Regions from separate parts of the Homo sapiens genome. Here region 1 is linked to region 2. The links come from fine-mapping of genetic effects on gene expression. Tissue or cell type: whole blood. Region 2 holds a variant in brackets; the other region holds the start of a gene. All regions are shown on one strand. Distances are between the middles of the regions.

Region 1 (10,785 bases), 110 kb after region 2:
ATACATAGATTATAGAGTACCAATCTTTTGAATTAAGTAGTTTACCTTTAGGCTCCTGCATTTTTCCTGCCTGTTTCATCCAAGCCCTTTTTTTAAGGGAGGGGATCAGTGAGGAATGGTGGATAATCTTTACCTACAGATATTTCAAGTTACTTCCCAGTGCAGTCAGTTTCGTTACTTCCTGATTTAGGTAAAACCTGTCTTATAAGCTTAGGCCTATTACTGTTCAAAGAGAAAGAGCTTAACGTCCTGTACATGCACACCGCATGTACGCAATAAGCCAAGATTTGAAGCAAATGAGAACTTCCACCACCACCACTTTTCTGATCATATTGACTATACTGTCAGCCCAACGACAAAATAACTCTCTGATTGTATCCCAAGTTAGAATTTACATACTCATGTTAATCACCCTGAACTACGTGGAATAAATTCTATTTAACAGCAGACTGACTAATTAATTCCATTAGGTAAATATGATGAAAGTACAACTAATGACTCTTTAACAAAGAAGGTGTCAAAAATCCAATATAGATATGAATACATTTTGAAGAAGAAATTCGAAGTTTTAATGCTACAGACTGCAACATGTTAGCTGTTTGCACTTCAGATATGGAAGGAGTACATGTCCCATCCAATCAATAATGTAGTTATCAAGTGTTCTAACATTGCTGTAAGTGTTCCTTCACCAGAATAAGTATGAATCAAAATTTTATAACAATACAGAATGCTGATGATTACATCACAGCATGAGGCATACCCAAATGCCATAGAGGAAATCATTAAACCGATCAGTAGTTTCCAGCAGAGATTTGAACAATTCAGTTACTATGCGAGCACATTAAACTAGGCCATGGAAAGAGTTAAACCACAATCTGTTCTTTGTGTGGGAAGGCAGCCCTGCTCACAGCAACCACATCCCATGATAAGACCTCCCTATCTCCATACACTTTCTGATGCCATGCTTTTAGCTTTCACTGTAACTACAAAAACTTTGTTTATCCCCTTTAGGAATATATGCAAAAGGAAAGCCTGCTCAAGGAAATGTGGACTTAAATGTGCTTTGGAAACTCACTTCCTATAATCTTTTACTACGATTTATTGATATGACTAAAAAACACACATATATGCACTCACAAAACTAAAACCTTGAGAATGTAAAGAGCACATGAGGTGGAGTGGGTGGGCTCTGTCTCACTCATTTTACCCTTGCCATGCTTTTTAAAATGCAATATTATTTTATAAATATTAAGCCATGTGGTAACACGTAAGTACTTACACCTTAAGTACTATGTTCAGTGACATTTCATTTTCTTATAAAGACATCAAACACAGTTTTGATTAAATTTGAGTTTCAATATTTGATTATAAATATAATCTATCACACAAGAAAGCTCAAAATTTTAATGAGTTATTTTAAACAACCAAAATTCAAATTTGAAGGTTGAATTTGAAAATTCTTAGCAAATGCACACAGTTTTTAAACGTTCCTTTGACTTTGCTGTCAATGCTGCCAATATTGTTTTAAAACATGCTCTTTTTTTTGAGAAATAAAAGTAGCAAACTTTCTCAGGCTGCCAGTTTGCCTTATTGATATCGTTCAGGGTTTCACTATTATGTGAATTCAAGTGAAGCACTTATTTGACAAGGGGACATATCCTCCAAAAATGACTGTAAATTGAGGTTTGCTGTAAGTCGCATATATTTCTGTATTAACATGCCTAAATGTCATCTCCCAAGTGTGACTGTTTCCTAATGCTGAGTAACACTAGAGTCTTAAAGATTATGAGTGACATGAATATGGAACATAATAACTGTCCTGATACAAAAATATTTTTTTAAAAGGTGATTAAGGTTTTCAAATATCCTAACTAGTAGTGGATTATTACAATAGCATTAAGCAATCATAAATTCTTTAAAAAAAGCAAAACATATAAGTGATTTAAAACCAAACAACTGTATACAAAGGTAATAGGCAACTTTGCTCTTTCAGAATTTTTAGTAAAATGCATTGATGTTCAGTAATTCTCTTTTAAAACTTCCTTTAGTTGAACTAAATTGACAAAGTAAATAACAAAGTTACCAATTTCAGATATAAAAATAAAGAGTCTTAATTCCACTAGGCATATTTATTTTTCTTCCGTTTCCATGAAAGGGATGGATAATTTAGACCAACATAGAGGTAGAAGAGTAAATACTAGGTGCTCTTGGCGCATTGCTATATAACAACAAATCATGCAAAAAATGTACCTAAAGAACTTAAAAGCAACGAAAGAAAAATATATTTAATGCCATCATGCCAATTGAAAGTTATATTATTAATGGTTTACATTATTTTTAAACATATATTAAATCATATGATAGTTCTTAATTTTTCCTTTATATCTGATTTATACTGGTGTATAAATATTGGTTATTGATATGCTGATTTTGTAGCATACTATTTTGCTAAACATAACATTTAATGGTAGGTCCTTTTAAATTAAGATTTTTTTTCTAAAACCTAGATACCTTATTGCAACAATTGAGATACTTTTAAAAGTTTATAACCAATTAAGAATGATACTCTATTTTGCAATTTACATGTCCTGAGACATGTTTTTCTACAGCTACTAGGCTCTTGTGATACAAAACTACTGATCTGATACAAAAGTGACACTATTAATGTGGCCTCACTTTTATAACACCTATATTACCTGCAAAGTCACATGGAGCTTAGTGAAGTGAAAATTCTTAAGCTGAAATTCCTTCCCTGGTGTAGGCCTTGTTTTAATACATAAGCCTAGATTTATATTATTAAAATAGTAGAGAATATTAGTCATCACAAGTTATTGTTGTTAAGTGTGTATCTCTGAATACTAATGTGATAGCTGAATGATTATGCTGTATATGATCCCAACATTCCCTGTCTCAATGCTGCAATATTATCTTTAACTTACACAAATTAAGATAAAACTAGTGACTTTTCAATACATATTTGGAGGATACTAAAAATGCAATGTAATTGCTAGCAATGTTTCTGAAAAGCTGATGTTAGAAATATAGAGAAATGCACAATTATTCAATCTTTTACAGGTGAGAATAAGTGATGCTATACTCTGTAAGTGAAAATCTTGCTTTGATTTGTTTTATTTGATCACGGTGTAAAAATAATATCAAGTTAACACAGCTTATCAGAAAGAGAAAAATATATCCAGCCGATGGGTAATATTAATGGTAACTTTTACAAGTAAAGGCAATTCGTTATACCTGAAACAGTTTCATCATATTTATTGGCTATTATCATTCATGGCTTTTAAAATACAAATAGCTCAGCAACTCATTTTTCCAGTTTTGTTAAATTAAAGTGCGTGTTTACTTGCTGAAAATAGCCATATCTAAGTTAATCATACTCAGATGCCAAACAAAATATAAACAATAAAAAATGTGTCAGCCAAAAAGCTACAGGACTGTATCCAATCACTGAATAAGCCTTATCATTGTTTTCATCTTCATTCACAATTTATGAATGCCTCAGTCCTTTTGAATCACAATGGCTTCTAATTGTCATACAATTGAAATCTTAATTATTTGTCCATTATAAAAATGCATCATCGTGATATTAGATGTTTTTAAAATTTTAACACGCCCAAGACTGGCTGACACTTCTTTATATGACTAGTTTTCATGGCAATGTCAAAGAAAATAGTTATCAATTACCAATGGTGACACATCTTCCGAAAAGCTGAAATAAGCTGCCCCATACCTTTAGAGGTTTAAAATACTGCCTCAAATAACAGTTCTGGGCTAAGATATTTTAGTTACTTTGTCAGTTGTTAGTTCCCTGGGCAGCGATGAAAACTGCCCCCAGGTAAGTCTGTTGGGTCTCGCCGCTTTTCTATTTGACCGTCTGGCTTAAAGTGATACAAATCGTGTTTCTAAAAAGTATAAAACCAGTGTTTTATTTCATAACATTATTCCTAAGGTCTTAGGACAATTCTCAAAGTCGAAAAAAATGACCTTACTTCTACCAGCATTACTTAAAATGCCTTACGAGCTACGCCCAAATATCGTCAAATGAACAGGTTTCCACAAAAGGAACACGTTCTAAAAACTCCTTAACAATCACCAAGACCAACTAACTCGTGTCAACGTAAATACTGCCTTTGTGGTGCGGTCACTAGAAACCCCAAAGTGCAGCAGGTCACTATGGACCAGGGTTTCAGATCCCCAAATAAAGCAAAGGAATGGGTCCCCGGACCACAACCTCCGACTCGATTCGTCGCCCGCCCACCGCCTGCAGCGCAGTCCAGCGGCGCCCACACAGACTCGTGCTACAGTCCCCTCGCCCAAGTTCACTGGCTGTTTTTAAAAGCTTAGTCCCCCGTAAAGTCCTCCAAAGCCCGAGTCCACCTCAACGCGCGAGCTGCTGAGAGGGGCTACGGGCACCCCGGGCGGGGATGCCGCACCACAACGGGCACTTGAGGGGCCGCACGGGGCCTCGCACTTACAGGTCCCGGCCCTGCCCACCCCCCGGCGGCCTTGCCCGGCCCAGCGCCCGCGCTCCGTGCCCAGGGCGCGGGGCTGGGCGCTCGCAGTGGCCGTGGCGAGGGGCCGCTCCCGGCTCCCACGCCGCCCCGCGACGCCCGCTGCAACTCCGGGCCACTTCTCCAAGGGACGGGGATGTGCGGAGGTTAACTCAAGCCGCTAATTGTCCGCAACAAAACAAAACAAAGGCATTTCGGGCCAGAGAGAAAGCTCGAGAAAGCGACCGAGACATGTACCTGAGTGAGACAGATGGGAGAATACATCATGACTTCGCCTTAAAACGCACTTTCCGGGAGATGCCCAAGAAAATCTTCGAGAAGCAAGAATTTCATCTATTCATTTTACAGTCATCTGAGCCCCGCGATGCGATCAATCAGGACGGGGCTCTGCGCTGGATCACCGCAACTTCACAACAAACCCAGTCCTCCTTAAATAGCCAAAGATTCAAGTTCACTCGGCGTGCTAGATTTCCAGGGGTGAAATCCAATCTACACTTTTAACCCTCTTGCAGTCCGAGCGCGCTGGCCGTGCTTGCCGAGGCCGCCGCCGCCGCCGGTGTTGGCTGCTTTTCGCCTGGGTTTGGGGATTTGTTTTCTATTTTGCAGTTGTTGTTGTTGTTGGGGTGTAGGGGGTGCGCGAAGGTTCGGTGTGGGTTGGATTGGGGTGGTGGTTGGTGGTAAAATGCTTTTTCAAAAAAGGCGGGGAGGGGGGCGCGGGAGGGCGCAGGAGGGCGAGCGGGCGGGCGGGAGGGAGAGCGGGGAGAATGTGTCACCGCGCTGGGAAAGTTCAAGGTTACAGCCCCAAGCACTGCGGCAGGATCCCGGAGTGGTGATCGCAGGCGAAACTTTGCCGCGAGCCGACCATGTGTGTGCGCGAGGGGCAGCGTGAGCGAGTGCGCGCGGGTGGCGGGGCGCGCGCGGGAGAGGGCCGGGGTGGGGGCGGGGTGGGATGGGGGAGAAGGGAGAGGCCGGGGTGAGGGAGGGGGCGCGAGCGCTGATCTCTGGGGCGGAAGAGGCTCGCGGCGCGTGGTCCCCGGCAGCAGCAGCCGCCGCCGCCCGCGCCGGGTCTTCGGCGCCCGGCCGCCCGCCCGCCCGCCTCGCCCCGCGTCTGACCCGGCCGAGCGTGGAGGCTGCTGTTGCCGCCGCTGCCCAGAGCCCAGGGGTATCAAAACGATCTCCTGAAAAATTCCAAACGATAAATCCCGCTCTCCCGCTCGGCTCCAAACTCCTCTCTTTTCTGCTCTAGGCTCTTTTTTTTCCCTCCCTCTCTTGCTTTCTTTCGTTGCAAAACTTGGAAGTTGAAAAATTCACCGGTTCCACCCTCTGGACCCCGCTCGAGCTCTCTCCAAATCAGACTTAAGGATTGTTTTATTATTTAATTACACAATCATCGCTTTACTCCTCCTCCTGCAAACGCGCATTCCTTTTGCACCAGCCTCTCCACACCCCCCGCCCCCCCACCTTCCTCCTCCTCCTCCTTCTCCTTCTCTCCCCCCACCTCTCCCTCATTTGTTAAAGGTATCCTACCGGTGCTACAGAACCATGACTTTTTTTTTTTTTCCAAAATAGCTCTTCTTTCCGCTGCCCTCCCCACACCAGCACACACATACACACCCCCGAAAACCCGCCCTGGAAGAGGTATTTCGGTGCTCGCTGCGGACTCTTTTAAGCCGCGGGAACATCCGAGTGGGAGAAGCACCGAAACCGTCTGAGCCCGAGAAAGGAACGAGTGGAAAATTCCCTCACACCCAGGCCGCCCCCAGGCCGGGGCTGGGGCGCGGACACTCGCACCCGGGGCGGGCTCAGTCCGCGGAGCCTGCGGCTGCCGGGAAAAGGGGGAGGCCGAGCAGGCGGGGACCTGAGCGAACTTGGGCTCAAGTAGTTGGGGCGCGCCGGCGTGGACCAGGGGGGTGCGGCGCCCAGCCCCCGACGGCCCCGCCCGGAGCCCGGGTTCGCGGATAGGGAGGGGGTGCGGGTTCGTCCCGGGTCTGCCCACCAGGGGCCCGCACCCGAGGCAGTCGCGGCGCGCGGCGCTTCGCCGCGGTTTGCCGCCCTCCCCGGGGGTGCCCCGTGCACGTGGCCTCGCTCTGAGCGGGAGGACCGGGCCGAGCCGCCGCCGCCGCCTCTTGCTCCCTCCACCTCCTCCCCGCGCCCGGCTTCGCTCTCCTCCTCCTCCTCCTGCAGCCCCGCTGGCTGGCTCCCAATCCCCACCCCCCGGGGCCCGGGGCGCCGGCGGAAAGCGTCTCCCTACCCGCCCGGGTGCAGGCGGGGCGGGGCCGCGGCGCGCCCGGGGCTGCGGGGCGGGCCGGCGGGCGCGCGCGCGCCGCTGCAGCCCTCCAGAGGCTGCGGGCCCTGAGCCGCTCGGCGCCCGCGCCGGCTCCCCACCGCGGCGCTGCCCCGCCCCCACCCCGTCGCCCGTGCAGGCTCCGAGTGAATGAACTTGATTCCAGGGATTTTGAAGAAGGCGGTTCGCCTTGCACCCTTTCTGCACCCCCCGCCCACATACACACACCGCCCCCCAAATCCAGTTTTCTGCTTGGGGTGGATGGGGACGAGGGGGAAGCAAAGGCCTCCCAGACAATGGAGGGAGGAAAAGTGAGCGCCTGGGGCTCCGAGTCTACCTAGCTGGGGGATCCGGGGGGCGCTGGGGCTACCGGGTCCTCGCGGGCCCATCCCCAGGGCGGGGCCGCCCCGCTTCCACGGGTACTGCTGGGGCGTTTCGAGGCTCGCCCCCGATTCCCCGGTCCTCTTTCCACCGCTTCCCAGCTCGTGATCTGTCCCCTCAACTTTAGCCCCTCTCACTCCCTCTGGTTTCTGTCCACCGTCCCCTCTTCCCTCCCCCAGCGGACCTGGAGGAACCAGTGACTTTTTCCTTCACCAAGTGGGAGTTATCCACATCAAGCATTTCACAACGACACATCAAGAAAAGTAGGCAGGTTCAAGTCAACCATGAAATGGTCACTTTTTAACCCCGTCCTGTCCTCATTAGGGAAATGCTCAAACACAGTCCGTTTTCAAAGAGCGCTCTTAATGAGGCGAGCTTGCCAAGTTTACCAGCTGCAGCCCCCGTAAACCCAGAGCCCAAAGAAGAAAGGCGCTGGGGGGTGGGGAGTTCGGGAGGCCGGGGACGGGGGCTGCTGGGACTAGGAAGACAGGTAAAGTCGGGGAGATCGCGCGGACCCCTGCGAGTTAACCCTTTCGGCCACACGCCCTGGGAGCGGCCTCCCTGCGGTCCCCGCCCCTGCCCCGGCAAATCCTGGAGTCAGCGTTCTGACAACGTTAATTTCCTTTGTGCGGGTCATTTCTTCTTTTTGAAAAGCTGGGATAAAGTTGGCAGTCTTTATGGATGAAAGAAATGAGGTGACAGGGTTAATCCAAGTAAATACTCATTTCTCTCAGAAATTTTAGGCAACCTCATCTTAGATTAAACACACACAGACACACACACACAGAGAAACCACCAGCACGAAAGCATCACTTTGTATTGCACATTACACTGCATCCCCTTTCTCACCCTCACCAGATTCTGAGGGGAGGGGGTGGGGAAGCTCTACTGATAATACCAGCTTTAACTACTGCAGTTTCCCTTTGAACAAATATTCAATTTAACTGGAGTTAATTTACCATAAAAGACATTCCCCTTGGCAGGAATGCACTAATATCCTTGAACACACCTCTTTGAATGCCTGGACTCTCATAGAAGCCATTATTTCGGGGTCTCTTTAAAAATCGAGCGCCCATCTCTCCTTCTCTCCCTCCCTCCCTTCTTCCCTCCCTCCTCACCACACCACCCCCAGTGAAATCCTGGCACCCAGAGAGCACTCCTTTCAGCCTGAGAGCCCAGAACCAGCCGTTGTCCCCTGGCAAAAAGAGGCCCAGGGCTGAGCCCTGGGCAAGTGTCTCCCGACATCGCTACCCCTCCTCCCTTTATTAGTTTCCCTTTCCCAACAGAAACCATTTCCTTCTGCCACCAAAACTAGGTTGCATCCAAAAGTTTTTCACAAGCTTAAAAAAGAAAAACGAAAAATTGACAAGTATTACACAGAAGAGCCCACAAAAGCTTCAGCAACACCAAGGGCGAAGAAGCAGCGTCAGATCCAGGTAAGACCCCAGAGAAGTGAAGACGTCTGGGGCCTCCCAGGCCCATCACTTAGGGGTTCAAATCTCTTTCAATTGCCCCACGTTTGAGGGTGCTTATGGCTGGTTGCACTTTGATGACCATAGAGGATGCTTGATAGTTTTTGGTTTTGATTTGTTTCCCAGAAAAAGGAAAATGAGATAGGAGTATGGTGAGGCGAGGAAAACCAAAAAGGAATGAAGAGTGAGCAACAGAGACTTCCTGAAAAAGAAGGTTTATGGGGGTGCTCAGTTTCTATGGCTTTGACTGTCTTCTCAGGCCTTGCAGCCATGTGGAGAATGGCTGACACCCCCCAAAACACTTCTTCTTGTCCAGCCAATGCCAAGGTCATTGCAGGCCTTCCCTGGAAGAACTCTAGGGAGTTGTTTGGAAAGAGGGACTGGTGGATTTCGGTGCATGGGATGCCTGGCTTCTCTTAACACAACACTTGTCCACCACCTTTGGTTTGAAAATCTCAATCTTTTAAATCCCAGGTAGAAGGAGGAACTGAGAAAGTGCCTGCATTGTATTCACTTTCCATTTTTTCTAGCACGTCTGTGTCGTGGTATTAAGAGTGGAAATATCTCTGAAAAGCTTCTGATAGTATCAAAATGGGCCAAACACTTCTTAAACTTTGGTACTTACCAATCCTAAACTCTTCATCTCTCCCTCCCACACTGAGAGGGTTAAAAGCACTGGTGTGACAGGCCACTTTCATTCACCCCAAAACCTGGCTGAGGAGGCAGAAAGAAGTGAATGATTCTCTCAGCAACAGGAAACTCTGTTATTTCAGTATTCTTAAAGATCTCCTCCCTAGATCTCCTTGCTGCCTTATAAGGGAAAAAAAAAAGTTTCCTTTCTAACTAACAGAAAGTTTATTGATTTCTAAATAGAATGCCAGTGCTTCAGCTCACTGGATTTTTCAAAACCCAGTTGTATATTTGAAATAAGCAACGCTACCACATTTGAGCCTTTCACTACGGATCTCCAGAGAGGAGCTTGACATCTCAAGTATCTAATATTGTTTTTCTTTTAACCTTTTCCTTCCTAAAGAAATTGCAGCGACAGGTTGCAAATCCTGGGCAGTTTCATGAAAGATTTCTTGGAACTTAACAAAGCTGTCATTTCCAATACACTCGATGCCTTTTTTTTTTTTTTTTTTTTTTTTTGGCTCTTGCATGTGGTTTGCAAGAAGGTTCAACTATTCTACACACCCTGGCTGCATCACCAATATCAATATTTAAAAACTAAATGCAAAAGAGACAGATGACCTCCTGACCCCAGAAAGCAGGCCTGCAAAACTGCAAGTATCTACTGCACCATGCCCTGGGATCTTTCCTTTTTCCAAATGAACCACAAAAATCATACATGTGTAGTCTGGAAAACACAAATTTATATCCACAAGGAGGAACACCAAAAATCCACTCATAAATGCATATATAAACAATCAAGAAGTATTGAAAGTGCCTGTACTTGATGAGAATTGCAAAATCAATTTTACCAGCTCAGGTAATCAAATTACCCAGCTCTTAAACTACTACTGAGTACTACTACTACTGTCTACTACTCTTAAACAAAAAACAAAATCATACCCAGCCCTTAACGTACTACTGTCAAATTAGGGTAGTAATTTTTTCCCCACCAGAGAATTCACAACTGGTTAGTTTCCCCACCCCCATTGCTAGCCCTTTGCACTGAAATGAATAAATAACCTTGGACCTTTTTCTCCTCCTCTGGGAGCTATTTGGTGTCCCCTGAGGACAAAAGTAAATGAGAAAAATGACGCTGTTAATAATGTCACTGCCGAAATGCCTCTACTCCACTGTTTAAAAAAAAAAAAAAAGCATCCCACTAAGTGTGTCTACATTTCTAGCATATTTACAAGTTATAATACAGTTCTGATCTCAACACCAACTGAGCCAGATTCCTCCACTAAGGTTATCCGGTTTTCACTTCTCAACAGAGATGAGGCCAGTGCATCAACAGAGATTCCCAACACTGTAAGACACTTGCTTCACAGATTACAAAGTCAGCAGTTGCCCTGTAACTTTTGCATGATGTATTTTAAACTTTGAAAATAGAGGTAATAGTTGCCTCACTTATCCACAATGTTACAAAGGTTCCATATACTCTCTCACACAG
Region 2 (10,785 bases):
AACTCCATATCTAAGGAATACTTTAATGAAATAAAGATGGGTTAAAACATCAAGCTAATTTTGTGAGCACACGAAACAGAGAAATAATCTCAAAGAAAATGATAAATTCTAATTTTTATTTGAAAGTATAAAGCACATATGAGACGACTTTTATTGTGTTGCCACTTCATTCTTGTTTATTTAGGTTTCTTTATTCACTGTCGATATAAATGACTGCAGTGAAGCCAGGATTGCAGACCAAATCTGAATTTGGAAGTTTGGCTACAGCAATCTGGATCCCAAAGCCAAAGCTTCCTCCTCACATTAGACTCCCATTCAAAGCTATCACTGTGTTTTCAAAGTGACAACACTGTTCAACTTTCTTTTCACAGAGCAGGAATCTTTTATGGCATTAAGGGTATGTATGTCACACCATGAAAAACACAATGACATTGCAAACATAGACAAAGGAATCTAGTAAGGGCATTGGGAGGAAAAAGGGGGTGGGGTATTTAAGAAAATGTTTTTTAAACTTTTTTTTTTGCAAAAGAAAATGCATAATAATAAAATAATAACTGAAAGTTCCCTATTAATATCATCCAGCAATTATTAAAAATAGAATAAATTAGCTGATATGATCCAATCACCTGGTAGGGAACAGCATGTGTCTCCTTAGTCCATTGGCAGTGCTAATGGTGCTCCTAAATGAAGGATTTTTTTTTTCTATGTTCACGCTGGTTGAACTTAATTTTCCGTTCACCTGTTTACCTGGATTAGTTTTCAGCTTAACATTCATTAAGCATCAAGACATAACAAGAGGTGCAGTGATGATGAGATAAAAGTCTCAAGGCCATTACTCCTCCCATGAGGCACTCAGGGAGGATCTATAAGTGAAAGATAGCTTCACTCGCTTGGGTTAAAGTGAAAAAATATGAACCCACTCTAGAACTTTGAAAATCAAAGAGAGCTTTAAAAAGCCGTGTGTTTATGTTTTGCCTAATTTTTCACTTTTTCTCATTAGAAGGCAAGGTCTGACTAAATGTGGGTTATTTCTGATATCTCAGCTTCTAGTTTGCGGAAGGGGGTTCCTGTTTAAGGGAGGGAATGCTGCCACCCCCTACTCTCCCCAGCAGCAGCACACTGGACACCTGAGAAGCCAAAAGCGCTACACCAAAATATACCACCTTTAATCACAAATCAAACAACAGTAATTAGGAGCATCAAGTTAATTGTGTCTACTCCCCACAGAATGTGTCCTCCAAGGCTCCTTGAAATCAGGTTGAAAGATTAGTAGTAATTTTACTCCCAATTCTCTTATTCTAACTTAAAAAAAAAAAAAAAAACAGAGCCTAAGTTCATCACTCCTACCCTCAGAACTATGGAGTCTACAAGTAAAACCTTAAAAAGAAAAATCAGACTACTTAATTAAGTGTTTTCTTAGGCCGTTTATGTAATCAGAGTAACTTTGATCTTTGGCTTCTTAATCTGTTCAAAATTTGTTGTCAAATCGTATGGAATTCCTTTAAATCCAGAATTATAAATGTTATTTTCCATTTGTCTTTTATTAATGATTAAGACAACTTGGCAGTTTGAATCCAATCAATCAAGAATGTGCAAAATCCATTTCATATACATTGGTACAATTAGATACTGACAATAAGGCTCTTTCTTACCTTCCATTTGTACTAAATATGATAAAGATAGCAAGAATACCTTAGCTATTTTCGAGGCATTTTCATCTACATTACTTTGCAATCCCGAAATAGGTTGTGCTTTATTCTGACCCTTTACAATTACCAGAAAGGAATGCAGAGCTTGACAACTTGCAGAGTAATAGAAAAACCTTGATTTTTCATTGCATTTCCCCTTCTGACTTTCTTAGGATCTGAGGGACGACCCTTAACCTTTCTCAGTCTCACTCTCCTGTCTCAAACAAGCTATAATAAAACTTTATTCCAGTCCACTGGGGTATTAGAACAATGAATCTGATAGGATGTCCCTAACACACTGTACTGTGATCTCTATAGGGAAAGTTGCTATAAAAATAAAGACACTGTTGTTATTCTTCCAATTGAGTTATTTGCAAATGGATCTTCTTGATGGAGCCCAGCCCTCCGATATAGAAAAGAAAATTCTATCAGTCCTCTAGGGTACAATTGCCTTGTGGCAATTATACCCATAACCACATTTCCTTATTACTATTTATAAAAGACTGTGGAGTTCAAGGGGAGGCAAAAAGGGAGCTTAAGAAAAAATATGCTGTTTATTTTCAACAGAAGATGCTGAAGTTGCAAATTTGGAACTCAAGGCTATAGGTAAACTTTGACAGAACATGTGTTCCAAATTAGTGTGGTGTTTCTTAGCTGTGTCAGAAAGTCAGAGGTGTCCCTGAGGCTGCAGCGCTTTAGCAAATTTTGGAAATAACTTGGGGAAAAAAAAGGTAAATTACACAGTTAATCTGGTCCTCACTCTACGAATGCTACAAAACAATGACGAAAAGGTTCACGGCTAGACCATTCTCACCAAGAAAGACAGCATATCTCGAGGTACAAAAGGCACAAAAGAAAATTAAACTGAGCTTAGGAAGAAAGTGCTATGGACAATTTTACATGAAAAGCCAAAAGGGAATGTTGGGGCTACGTTGAACTTTCCTGGAGTCTACAGACAGAATACACGTTGCCCCCTATATTCATTACCAACAGCCATAAGAATTAGTAGGTGGCTCAGGTTTAGGCACTTTAAGAATTCCATATTCCTCAAATGGAATTTTTTCAAAGTAAATAATAAAAGCTTTGCTTTATGAAGTATTAGAGAAATGGGGTTTCCCTTCCATAACAGAAATCACTAGGCCCATCACACTGCACGTCTCCAAGGAGCATGATTCACAGTGTGGGCTACGGGGAGGGAGCCTTCTAAAGTCGTTTCGGATGTTCACTATGGCATTCTACGTGTCATTAAAAAAGCCTTATAAATCATCCTAAAATTTAGAGTTTAAACCTGGAACAATTACTTGGATAAAGTTTCTTATGTTAACAGGTTTTTAAAAGTTCAATTTTCAGAAAAGTGTTTGTTGTCAGTGGAGATCTGCATATAATCTAGATTCCAATTAAACACAGAGCTCCAAAAAGACCAATTAAAGGAGAAGTAGAACAGCTTGCCGTATCATGACAATAAATGCTACTTGCCTTATTGTCATTTCACAATCAGTGACATTCAGTCCACAAATTCTAGTGAGCATCAGATTCACCTGAGATGCTTGTTAGAAATTCAGATTCCTCGACCTCACCCGCAATGACTGGGACTCGTACAGCAATGCTGGGGCCAAGAAAGCGCTCTCAACAAGCACCCCAGGTAACTCCCGCACATTGTTCTCAGCCAGTGTACAAGGGACTTGGCTGCTGATGCTTGCTCACAGACACCAAACTGGAAAGCAAAAGGCAGTATGTGACTATAGAGTCCTGAAAACACAAACAAACAAAAATGCAGTCCTTAAGCCAAAACCAATCTCCACTTTTCTCCCTCTCCCTGCCATGTGATGCACCAGCTTTGGCCAAAAATCACATGTGTACAGTGAATCCTAAAAAGCAACTAAATCCAAATCCACACTGAACCATTCTGAACTCTATCACACTTCACAGAGCTTTAAATAGAATTCTACTCAAAACATCACACCCTGACTGGCCAAGGGATTCTTTGGGTTCTGTTGCTTTATCCAAGTGATCCAAAGTGACCCAGGTTCCATTCTGCAAGTTCGCTTCTACAGCTTTTTCCAAGTCGAACACAGAAGGATTAAAAAGAAAACACAAATATTGGCATAGGTGACTTGAGGTTACTTGACCTTTCTGAAGGAAGATTTTTTGGCAATTGTGTTCTGGCAGCTCCCTGGAAGGCAAGGCCAGGACACAAAGAGGAAGACAGGAAGCCGGGAGCTGGCCATGTGTCCTTGGCAGGCAGTAGTGCGGCAGGGTGAACCACCTCATCCCTGCCAAACCAGAAACAGTGGGGAAAGCCCAGCTAATTGGCAACTCACAGCCGGCTACAGTGTACATCCTCGGCTTTA[G/A]ATGCCTGATAAAGTTAAATGGCCTGCCAGACCCTAATCTACTTAAACAGGATCCTCCTTTACTTTCAAAAACTTAACTCACCCATTTGTGTTTCCTTAAGGAAGTGGTAAGGCAGCATCTTAGAATGTTAAGAGCTGGAAAAATTAAAAACAAAACAGCAAAAAAAGTAAAGATGTGTTGGAGTCTCATTATGCTTATAGCCGTTTTACTTTGTGAAAGGGCCATGTATGTTTGTGCTTTTGGTTTTAGCTAATAAGACTTCCACTTGGTCATTTATTTTTATTTAAAAGAAATTCTCAAGTCAACATTGCAGACTGATTATGACTTCAGTTCATTGGAGGATCCAGGATCCATTTTTTTTTTAATTTCACAAAACTCCTGAAGATATCCAAGGAGACTGCAGAGTTGCACCCAGTTTCCACTCAGCTATTGTTTTTACTTACACATTAGTTGGCTCAATCATATTTGCTAAGGTATTTCTGTATGTACTAGCATAAAATCACCACTTTCTGAGTCTTTTACAGCTAAAATAGGGAATCACGCAGGGAGAACAGGAGCAGAAGGGATTGTCCAAATAAACTGTTCCTTACTGCTGCTGCTAACAGAGTGAATCCAGGGACCTGGAGCCTGGAGCATAATTTTGCCCCTAGGTCTGAAGGCCTGGTAAGAGCAATTTAAAGGGGTGTGCTCAGTAGTTGGGCATATTTCCTTCTATTTTCTGTGAAACTGTTCATGCCTTCTTCAAAACTCAAAGCAAAATTTCAAATTAGCTTCTCCTCCTTAAAATATAGTAGTCAATGGTGAAATTTGATGAAGAAAATGCAAATTTCCTCTCAGAACTGGTAGAAGAGAAAGATTACAATAAACATAATCCACTGTTTTCATCAGAAGTTTCTTAAAGTCTACAGAATATTCATCCTTTAAGCAACCCAGGACCCCAGAATCTGTTTCAGTGAAGTTAGACCAAGGAATAAAACACAATACCAAAACTCACATACTCTCTGATCACGATGTGAGATAAGAAAATAATAATCCTCATGCCCAACACTAGCTCTCAGGATCGGTAAGTCTAAGTATGTGTTTCAGCTCCAAAATTACTATTTTTTTTAAAACACGACTTGACTTTCCCAGACTCTACTTAGTTGACTTTTCACACTAAGTATCCCTAGCTTTTGGAAATTCTCCTTCCCTTTTCCTTTAGGGCACCACTCCTTTCTTAGGTCCAATCCTCTATTTCTGAGGGCTGCTTTCCTGTCTTGATGGCTATCTCCTTCTCTTCTGTTGGTCCCTTATATGTTGGTGATCCCAAAGACGATCCATCCAACTTGGCCATCTTCTTGTCTTTGTACATTCCCCCTCAGCAAACTCAGCTAGGTCCATGTTTACAAATACTACCCGTTTTTTGAGAACTCTGTATCTCCATATCTAGCCCTAACCTCTTCTTTAACTGCAAAACTCCTCCTGATGTTGCTAGTGCACAACCTTTGTACACTCTTGCCTCCCCGCAACCAATCCATATCTCAATTAATGGCATTCACAGCCATTCAGTTTCCCAAGCTGAAAATGCTCATTCCAGAAACCCCAACTCCCCAAAGCTTCACATTCAGTTGTCAGCCCAGACTCTATCTTCCTTTCAAGCCTATTTCCCCATCTCCATCCCAACTGGTGCTAAGTCCCTTATTGAGCTTCACATTTTTACCTCACAATAGCCTCAGCCTCCTCAGGCCATTATGATTCACTCTTCACACTATAACCAGACTCCATCCTCTGCATAGCCACCAGGAATCACAACACTTCACTCCTTAAAACACCTTGGTGGCTTCCAATTGCTAGCTAGGATAATCTACAACCTCCTTAGTACAGCATTCAAGGTGCTCCATAACCTGGCCCCAGCCTAGCCTCACTCTCACAGAAACCATCACCCTTTACCCTCCCCCTCACACCCACACCCAACTTCCTAATATTCTTCTTAACAGTCCTAGAATATGCCGTGCAACTGCAGGTCTGTGCCCTTGCTCATAAGGTTTCTATGCCTGGAATATCCCTTATTTGATGCAAGACAAACGCCTAATTCATCTTTAAAAGCTCTTGAATTTCGTCTGTTACAACCTTCCTGAACCTTATTGCCCCATCTAATGAGACCACCCTCTGGGGCCCACATGGTCTTGCTCACACTTTAGTGCAGGGCCCGACCAGTGCATTATAGTTGGTTGTTTATACATTACTTCTCTCCAAGATTGTGACCTCCTGTATCCCAACTTACCCTGAATAATTTTGGGAATCTATTTAAATGGCATACAAATTTATCTTGGATGTACTATCCATGAAGAAACTGAGACAAAGAGCATTAATTCCCAAAAGAAAGACAAAGTAACCTTAAAAAAAAAAAGTCATAATGAGCTATCAATTTATACAGGTAATTAACATTCAATATTCTGATTGTGACATATACAGATGATATTTATCCATTCGTTTATTTTTTTGAAAAGGACTGAACACCTACAGTGGTCCATGTATCATCCTTGGAACTCAGTCTACAACAGTCAATAAAAGATGATTTGTTCTTGTCTTCATGGAGCTTATGGTTTCATTTGCACAATGTTGACTTTCATTCACTTGCTAGCAGGTAAAATGTGCTCTCTATACAATTTACAAATAAGCAGAATCTGTAATCATTATATTTTGAAGATAAAATTGATACTTTTCACACACACACACACACACACACACACACACACACAAAGATTTAGCAGTGGGACAAACTTTTTCATTTAATTTTTGTTTATAGCAACTAAAACATGAGAGACTAAAAGCCACAGACTGCAAAAGCATTGTTTAGCTGTGATAAGCAGAATGTGTAAAGGTGGTATGATGGCACAACAGCTATTGCAGCATGAAATAATGAGACTATAAAATAATGAGACCACAGTTTTAAAATTCTCCGACTTCCATTATCTTTCAGAATAGATGAAAGGGGTCTACTGACTAGTTCGGGAGCTGAAGAGTCAAATACTATTTTAGGATGAAAATTACTTTGTGGTCACATCCCATTATAGAATATTGATGGAGCCACACTACATGAAAGTCTCAAAAGGAGTACTGAGAGAAAACATCGTTAAGAATTGGTTTTCTGCTACTCAAACCCATCCTCAAGAAAAAACAAAAGCTAATTTAAAAAAATCATCACCAAAGCAAAGTTTCTAAATGGAATGACATAAAAATATCGGTTCTACGTTTCTTGTCTTTTAGAAAAACGACCCATATGTGTAGTATTTTATATGGTTTTCTCTAACGTATCTGAGAAATGGGTAAGCAAATCTATGCAAAGAGATATCATGGATTGTGATGTCATATTTCTTATGAAAAAAATCACCTTCACAATGTCAATTAATACCAAATTTAGCTTTACAACTCCATGAACTCTACCATTTTTTAGGTTAGCTGAAAACGATCTATTGACTAGCTTTGTGAGCTGAACAGTTGAATGCTACTTACATAGAAAATTATTTCTTTCACTCCATAAGAATAATTATCATGGCGATCACACAATTATTACAATTACATCTGTAAGAACTGTTACTGGGAATTTATCTCTGAAACAGTCTCATGCCTTGCAGGGGACATTTATCTTTTTGAATGATCATCAACACGAGTGTCTTTTTGTAGCTATATAAGTGATTTTTACCTCCTTCTATTAATATCCTCTTGCATGCTTTAGAAGCCAAAGGAGACAGCCCCCACATTTTTTTTTTCCTAAAGCAATTGTTTCAGTTAAGCCAGGCCCATGGCATCTTTTGAGACAGAAAGCTACCCTTTCCATTCACGGCAACATAACATTCACAATGTGCTTTCCTAAATGGATGGAAAACCCCTCAAAAAAGCCCCTCAAATCTGTGTTTCATAAACTGTACTCTTAGCAATAAAGTTTATTACAGACCTAAAGTATCTGCATAAACCCGGTTAATTGAAAAGTGGGTGGAGAAGGCTGCCAAATTAAATGTTTACATTAGCACAGCTGTATTGTAAAAACATTCTGCCCCCTGTGCTTTGTAATTATAAGATATTTCTGGACTGTGTATCTCTACAAAGTTTATCTCCACTGCCAAGAGTGTCTTGGCACGGAGCGACTGCAGTTTTTGGCAGCCAGGAGCTCTCCGCGCGGGCAGGATCTAAAATGGCTGCCAAGCGGCCTCCTGAAATGTCGCCGGCCTGGGCCCGCCTCACCAAGGGCAAAGGCCAACCCTGCTACCAAGGCAGGGTCTAAAGTCTGTCTCACAGGAAGTCAAAATGTGTATTTCCCTCATAAATAAGACTTGGTACCACAACTTTTGTGTTGCAGTAGTTAAAGCTGCTTGAAAAACTAACTACAAAGGAATATTGGAATACTACCAGATAGAAAATGGTGACAAGGGGTCTTTTACGAAATTCTGCTGACCTCAACATTTCAATCACACATAATGCCCGCAATATTTTCTGCTGATTAAAGAAACTCATTTAATTTGTGGGGAAAAAAAAATGTTAAAAAAAACCTCAACAAATTCTGACCATATTAAAACATACTACAGAGAAGCATAAGCAAAGCCAACACTTTCCCATTTGCAATGGCATGATTTTGACATAAACTTATAATCTCTATCAAAGCATACGTGTATGAAAAATGAAAACCAAAAAATTAATTTGTTTTCTTCTCATCCTTTAACAGGCTATGTTTGTCTTACAACATTAAAATAACATTAACAAAAGAAAACCTTTTCATACCTTTCTATGGCACAGGCCTCAAAATTTGAGGAATGATCTCTCTTTTCCCGCCGTCCACTGCCCAAGATGTGGAAAGGAAAGAAGGCCAAGGGGAAGAAGGTGGCTCCGGCCCCTGCTGTCTTGAAGAAGCAGGAGGCCAAGAAAGTGGTCAACCCCCTGTTTGAGAAAAGGCCTAAGAATTTTGGCATTAGACAGGACATCCAGCCCAAAAGAGACCTCGCCCGCTTTGTGAAATGGCCCCGCTATAGCAGGTTGCAGCGGCAGAGAGTCATCCTCTATAAGCGACTGAAAATGCCTCCTGCGATTAACCAGTTCACCCAGGACCTGGACCACCAAACAGCTACTCAGCTGCTTAAGCTGCCCCACAAGTACAGACCAGAGACAAAGCAAGAGAAGAAGCAGAGGCTGTTGGCCCGGGCGGAGAAGAAAGCGCCGGCAAAGGGGACCTCCCCACTAAGAACACCTGTCCTTCAAGCAGGAGTTAACACCATCACCACCTTGGTGTAGAATAAGAAAGCTCAGTTGGTGGTGATTGCATACAACATGGATCCCATCGAGCTGGTTGTGTTCCTGCCTGCCCTGTGTCGTAAAATGGGGGTCCCTTACTGCAATATCAAGGGGAAGACAAGACTGGGACATCTAATCCACAGGAAGACCTGCACCACTGCTGCCTTCATACAGGTTAACTCAGAAGACAAAGGGGCTTTGGTTAAGCTGGTGGTAGCTATCAGAACCAATTACAACGACAGAGCCAATGAGATCCGTCATCACTGGGGAGGCAATGTCCTGGGTCCCAAGCCTGTGGCTTACATTGCCAAGCTCAAAAGGCAAAAGCTAAAGAACTTGCCACCAAACTGGGTTAAATGTACACTGTTGAGTTTTCTGTACATAAAAATAATACAAATTTCCCTTCAAAAAACATCTGAGGAATTAACTATGTCTGTGGCATAAAACTGAAAAAAACCGAGATCAGATACATAGTCTCTGTGAGTGAGTTCCAAGGGCTGACCAAAGGAACAAAAATTGGAAGGAAGGGAGGGGAGGGGAGGGGGAAAAAAGAAGGGAGGAAGGAAGGGGGAGGGAAAGCAGGGTGGGAGGGAGGGAAAGAAGAAAGGAAGGGGAATGAAAACGTGGGAGGGAGGAAATGATGGAGACACTGCATGGAACTAAAAATACATACTGATTTGTTCATAGTAGGAATATAAAAAACACTTGAAGAATTAAAAATACTTCATAAGTACACCTTCATAAGTACGATATATACACAAGGTATATATTGTCTCTGTCCTTTTTTTCTCTGTTAAACTTAAATCCCAGCTAACAGGCTATGTTCACAGCAGCCAAATACTGCATAATGAGGTCAGTGGATTTTTCTTTGAGACTGTTCCGCAAGTTTAAGCTCAGGTTGAGAGACACATTAGGCCTGGTGTACTCCTGTAATCATCATTGGCAGTGATTACTGTTTGGTAATCTAAGCTTCAACTGAATCCAACATTCTTGCCTCTGCTGAAAGATAATTCAGAGGTGAAAGATGAATTCCATAATGCTGACACAAACTGGTGGTATTCATCATAGTGCTTATTCACTGAATGCCCATTCTAGCTTGAATTATATGTCCACACACTCAGCAGAGCCACACCAATATTGTTTACTTAATTTTTTTAAGTCTCCATTTTAGGAGAAGAAAATCTAATGTCTCTTTAATCGTATATTTTGAATAATGTCTATTCTCCAGTAGTCACCTGAAAAACACACACACACACACACACACACACTTTTCCTGGACCTTTTTACAGCAGAATAATTTCTCAGCATTATTAATTATGTTTCTGCGTAAAAGACATTTAGGGACTTTTATCCTTTGTTTAATTAGTTATCAAAATAATCAGTCACACAGCTATTTAATAATGGGCCACTCTTAACAGACAGGTGAAACAGAGTGGTTGTGTTCAAAAAATATTTCTAGTTCACTAGTAACTTACTAACT

What was found. PIP is the estimated chance that this variant, and not a neighbour inherited with it, causes the effect.
Region 1: it holds the start of NFIB, and the variant in region 2 is fine-mapped to the expression of NFIB in whole blood (INTERVAL, PIP above 0.99).

Annotation. Positions count from the first base shown.
Region 1 is chr9:14,308,719-14,319,503 of GRCh38, forward strand. NFIB (nuclear factor I B) reads right to left here and starts at 5,423. Exons shown (of 11, transcript NM_001190737.2): 1 at 4,764-5,423. The coding sequence starts at 4,793. It overlaps NFIB-AS1 (NFIB antisense RNA 1), which reads left to right and starts at 8,369. Exons shown (of 2, transcript NR_186536.1): 1 at 8,369-8,627. RefSeq lists a silencer at 4,832-5,126.
Region 2 is chr9:14,195,384-14,206,168 of GRCh38, forward strand. All of the region lies in intron 2 of NFIB (nuclear factor I B), which reads right to left. It also overlaps the pseudogene RPL7AP47. Among named protein-coding and RNA genes, the nearest start is that of NFIB, 110 kb to the right of the region's middle. RefSeq lists an enhancer at 9,105-9,604. The variant G/A (reference allele first, on the strand shown) is at 4,040.